Linked DNA regions of Homo sapiens: region 2 is linked to region 1. A link means that fine-mapping ties the variant in region 1 to the expression of a gene that starts in the linked region. Tissue or cell type: whole blood. Region 1 holds a variant in brackets; the other region holds the start of a gene. All regions are shown on one strand. Distances are between the middles of the regions.

Region 1 (2,676 bases):
CACTGCCATGGTTTAACTCCAGTTCCCTGTGGCCATGTAGAATGATATGCTGCCACCAGGTGGCAGCACCAGGCCACAGACTCCAGGTCCTGGAGGTCAAGGCCCAGTGGCCTGTCCACTGACCTTGAGAACCACACATTTCTCTGTCATACACATCAAAAGAGCCAATACTTCTGTCTTTTTTTTTTTTTCTTTGAGATGGAGTCTCTGTCGCCCAGGCTGGAGTGCAGTGGCATGATCTCGGCTCAGTGCAACCTCTGCCTCCCAGTTTCAAGCAATCCTCTGGCCTCAGCCTCCCAAGAAGCTGGGATTAAACATGCACCATCATGCCCAGTCAATTTTTTGTACTTTTAGTAGAGATGGGGTTTCACCGTGTTGGCCAGGCTGGTGTCAAACTCCTGACCTGGAACTCCTGATCCGCCTGCCTCAGCCTCCCAAAGTGCTGGGATTATAGGCATGAGCCATTGTGCCTGGCTTCAACTTACTTTTTTAAAACTTGAATCACATTCTGTAGACTGAAAAATAACAGAAGTTAGCACTTATACCATCACTTCATTAATTCCCTGTCACAGCCTACCATGAGGGTTCATTATCCCTTTTTTACAAATGAAGAAACCAAGTCTCTGAGGGGTGGAGTAGCTGGCTAAGGTCACACAGGAAGCCACACTATGTCCCAACACTTGGAATGATGTCACCAGCCCTGTGCTTTCTTTTTTTCGAGATGGAGTCTTGCTCTGTCGCCCAGGCTGGAGTGCAGTGGCACGATCTTAGCTCACTGCAAGCTCCGCCTCCCGGGTTCACACCATTCTCCTGCCTCAGCCTCCCGAGTAGCTGGGACTACAGGTGCCCACCACCACACCCGGCTAAGTTTTTTGTATTTTTAATAGAGTCGGGGGTTTCACCGTATTAGCCAGGATGGTCTCGATCTCCTGACCTCGTGATCTGCCTGCCTCAGCCTCCCAAAGTGCTGGGATTACAGGCATGAGCCACCGCACCTTGCCAGCCCCATGCTTTCTTTGTGACCACTCCCAGCCTGTTTCCCAACCTCCCACCCCACAGGGAGTATGAGGAGTAGCAGTGATGCCTGTGACAGAGGCAATGCCAGGCACTATGTGGTGTGGGTAAGGGGCAGGTTGTCACAGGAGCTGCCATCCAGCAGGTGTCCTGACACCCAACAGGGAAGCTGAGGCTGGGGGCCTGACCTTGGTGCCCTGCCCTGACCCACAGCCAGCCCCCCTGGCCTGATCTTCCCTGGCACCCCCTTGTACCCTCAGTTCCGGAACCCCAAGGCATCCTTGCGTGTGCGGCT[C/T]TGTGACCTCCTGAGCCACCTGCAGCGGAGCGGTGAGCGGGACTGCCAGGAGTTCTACCGAGCCCTGTATATCCATGCCCAGCCCCTGCACAGCCGCCTGCCCAGCCGCCACGCTCTGCGTAAGTTCCACATCACCAACCATGCATGCTTGGTGCTGGCCCGGGGAGGGCACCCCAGCCTGCCGTTGATGGCATGGATGTCCTCCATGACCACCCAAGTCTGCTGCAGCCCAGGCCTGGCATCCCCTCTCGCCTCAGCCCCTCCCCAGAGGCCACCCTCTGGCCCCGAGGGGAGAGTGTGGCAGGCACAGGCAGTGCAGATGTTGGTCTCTGTCTCCCACTTTCTCCCCCTTCCTCCGTCTCTCTCTCATGGCAGTTTTCACACAGCATGGGGCATCTTATACGTCCACTCTTGCCCTTCCTTTTCTAACCTCATTCCACGGGGATCCCTTCATGTCTGTGTGGACAGCAACCTTGTTCCCACAGCTGCATGGCGCTCCTAGGCGGTCCCAGCTGGAATTACCCAACCCCATGACGGACCCTTTCATTGCAGCGATCTGCACACGTGTGGGTGTTTCCATAGGACATTGTCAGGCACGGATGGCTGGTCCGAAGCACGTGCATTTCAGTTTTGAGGCTCCTGTCCTCAGGCAGTGTGGACTCAGGCCCTGGGAGTCATGTGGATGCCAGTAGCCTGGGCCCACAGAGCTGCTGGGATGTGGGGGGCATATCAAGTTGAAGATGGCAACTCTGATCTGACGCCTCTGTGCTCAGGGCCCCTGGAGGAGGGGCTACTGCCCCTTGGCCCTTAGACAACAGGACAGAGACCAGAGGGACTGGGCGGCTTGTCCCAGGCTACTGGGCTGTGGTCTCTGACCCCCTGGAGGCCTCCCCACGCCTCACAGAACACAGTGCAGACGGTGGGCGGGGAGAGCTCGAGGGGAGGCCCAGCCCTGCAGGTGGGACTGGCTCTCCCTCCCCAGCCACGAGTATGCCACAGGGGGCTTTCAAAACCAGGCAGGGCCAAGCCTTGGCCCCACTGGAGGTAGAGCACCTTCTGTGGCTCCCGGGTGCCTTTAGGCCCGTCCAGGAGTTGGAGCAGAGGAGAAGACCCAGACTGTGCATAGTTCCCTGAGGAGGGCTAGCCTCAGGTGCCACAGCCTGGTTCGGCCTGGCGGCCCCAGGAGGCAGCAGCAACCTTGGGCTTCCTGCGGGGTGACTACCTTGCCCTCCGGCCCTGCCCGTTGACTAACTATGCTCTGTGGTTTTGTTTCCAGAGAACTCAGATTGCACAGAGCTAGACTCGGGCAGCCAGAGCGGCGAGCTGAGTAACAGGGGTAACACCTCCCTGCTGCCCCTCCCTCTCTC
Region 2 (2,676 bases), 23 kb after region 1:
CCAAGACAGTGATCCGGGAACAAATCCAACCCAATCTCCTCTGGGCTTGAGATGCACCCATCTCAGGAGGCACAGCCTATCCTGCCGCCCGCAGAAGTGAGCAGAGACTGCTCTGAGTGGAGGGCATTGCCCGGGCAAGGTCAGGGTTGGGGGAGGAGCAGTATCCCTTCCTTTCCAAGGCGCTTCCAAGCCACTGACCTGTTTATTACCTGACTTGCTTTCCCCACTTCCCTGAAGGCAGGAGAGACCCTTTGTTCTCTCTTTATAAGACCATGTCTAAAAGGCCCAGCGAGGTGTGGCAACTTCCCAAGGACACACAGCCGGAGGAGCCCCCTGCCTATTGCTCCAAAGTGCTCACACACTGGGGCAGGGCCAGGTCGCTGGGGTCCCGCACACCGGTCAAGTCCTGCAGTGCGACAGCTCCTCTCTAACCTAGGAACAAGTGTCCATGCAGCCCCAGGGCCATCCTATCCCGTGGCTCATGGGGCCCCGCCTCCCCGAACATGTCCTGTCCCCACAGCACCGGCCTAGGACTGTTCACCAGCGAGTGGGCAGAGTGTCTTTGCCCCAGTCTGGTCCACGCCATGGAGAGGCCTGGAAAAACCCAACAGGCTGCTGTTCCCTGCCCCCATCCCTGAGGGGGTTAGAAAAGGAAAGAATGTTCAAAGTAAACAAGTCACCAGAGGGCCATGCCAGGACCTTGCAACAAACACAAGGTGCTCAGTAAGTGCTGAGTCCTGGGATGAAGAATTCTGAAGCGGGACCACTACCAGGGCCTGCCCCCTGCCCACAGCCCTCCCAGGCCGGGCAGGGCAAGTTCTGGAGGGCCGGTGGCGGCATACACTGAAGGCTGTGTGACGTTTCTATTTCTCAAGGCAGGTGAGTGGAATAGGGACCACAGCGGGCCCCAAGTTCCCCCATCAAGGCACGCATCAGATTGTGTGGTCAGCGTGGGGTGACGTAACTGTCTGCATGCAGCTGGTCTGGAGCCCGGAGGCTGTGACTCCCCTCCGCCCGCCTCCGGGCAAAGTGCGCGGAGGAGCCGGCACGGCGAGGCTGAAGTTAGAGAGGCCCGCGCGAGAGTGGGGGGGAGGTCGGGAAAGCCGGGCGCCGGCAGTCCTTAGCCCGAGGAGCTGCGCCGAGGCCCCCTCCGCCGTGCAGCCAAGCGCGGGCGCTGCTTAGTGGGGCTGGGGACGCCAGCCCGCCCTGCGCCCCCACGCCCCCTCGTCCCGCCCACTTGCCGGGGGTGGCTGGAGCTCCCGGGGGCATCGTTCTGACCCTGATGGGGCGGGAAGGACTTGGCCTAGAGCGGGACGTCCCCCAACACTCTGCAGTGCGGACGCGGCGCACACAGGTGCCCGGGGAGCCGCGGCGCCCCGAAAGGACAGGGCCTGGCAAGATCATGCAGCGGTGGGGGGAAGGTCTTACCGAGGCGTCCGGGGAGCCGGGTGTGCCCGGAGGCAGGCCGCCGTTGAGCTCGTACTCCTCGGTTCCCGAGTCCATGGTGCGGCCGCCCAGGCCGCCAGGATCCGGGCCTGAGCGCGCCCGAGCCTCAGCCGCAGGCTCCAGCTGCGCGCCCGCCCCCGGCCCGCCCCCGGCCCGCCCGGCGGCGAGCTGCTGCCCCAGACTCCGCCTCCACCCGGGGCGGGCCCGGGGCCTGGAGGCTGTACGCTGAGAGCGCGCAGTTTGGGGCGACCCCAACCCCTCGGGCCTGAGACGGTCCCGCGGGGCCCCACAAGGGAGGGGGCGCGACGCCGATGGCCCCAGAGGACCCTGCGCTGCGTCTTGCTCTGAACCTCCGTCGCGGACACTTTTAATCCACAAAATGAGGCCAAGAACGACCTTTCCCTGGCCACCAGGCAAACTGCATGAAAGCGAGCGGGCGTTGCCGCTGGCGCCCACGCTGGGTTTTTCCCAGGCGGGGTTCGCCCTGGGAACCGCAGATCGCTCCAGCACAGCGCCTGCTGCGCCCCTAGTAACAGCGTCAGAGAGTCCGGGGTTCCCCTGATTGCGGGCCACGCTGACACAGGGCTTCCCACTCCCTGACCTTAGGTTTTCCTGCCTGGGAAATGGGGGTTATGAGGGCACAGACTGCTGGAGGGGCTGGGGGAGGCACAAAGGGGATGAACGTGCGCTGACTCATGGGCCCATCTGTGCCACCTGTGGCAGGGGGTGGGCTGGGGGCAGCACAGTGCCCAGAGCCCTGGCCAGATGCTAGGCGGGCCCCCACCTGTTGTATGATTGAAGTGGTTGTTTGGTCTCTGTTTCTCCATATGTTCATTCCTCAGCACTTTGCCCATCTGGGGGCCTGGGGGTCGAGAGCATGTGGCGGCCACCCTGGGAGGCCAGGGGAGTTCATCCTGACCACAGCATAGTCAGCTTGCGGCAGTATGGCCACTCTATTTCCAGAAGGGCAGTGGAAGGAAGGCCAGCTCAGACCCCAGGCTCTGTCCAGTCAGGCTGCCACCGGGACAGGAGGTAGGAGTGAGTGGGCATGGGCAGGGCAGCAGGATTGCGCTTGCCCTGATCCTCCAAACGGGGTCATCCCATGAAGGAGGAGCTGTCGTGGGCCCACTTCACAGCAGAGAAACTGAGGCTCAGGCTGTCACTGCCCCAGCTCTGCCTCAGAGGGGATCTGCAGGACAGGGTCTGGCACGGTGGCCCACGACGGGGATG

The links. PIP is the estimated chance that this variant, and not a neighbour inherited with it, causes the effect.
Region 2: NINJ1 starts here. The variant in region 1 is fine-mapped to the expression of NINJ1 in whole blood (INTERVAL, PIP above 0.99).

Annotation. Positions count from the first base shown.
Region 1 is chr9:93,109,294-93,111,969 of GRCh38, forward strand. It overlaps CARD19 (caspase recruitment domain family member 19), which reads left to right. Exons shown (of 6, transcript NM_032310.5): 3 at 1,275-1,428; 4 at 2,586-2,645. Among named protein-coding and RNA genes, the nearest start is that of CARD19, 14 kb to the left of the region's middle. The variant C/T (reference allele first, on the strand shown) is at 1,310.
Region 2 is chr9:93,132,715-93,135,390 of GRCh38, forward strand. NINJ1 (ninjurin 1) reads right to left here and starts at 1,537. Exons shown (of 4, transcript NM_004148.4): 1 at 1,429-1,537. The coding sequence starts at 1,503. It overlaps LOC124902212 (a long non-coding RNA gene), which reads left to right and starts at 298. Exons shown (of 3, transcript XR_007061665.1): 1 at 298-879. RefSeq lists enhancers at 742-791, 2,251-2,676 and silencers at 1,082-1,331, 1,502-1,731, 2,232-2,281.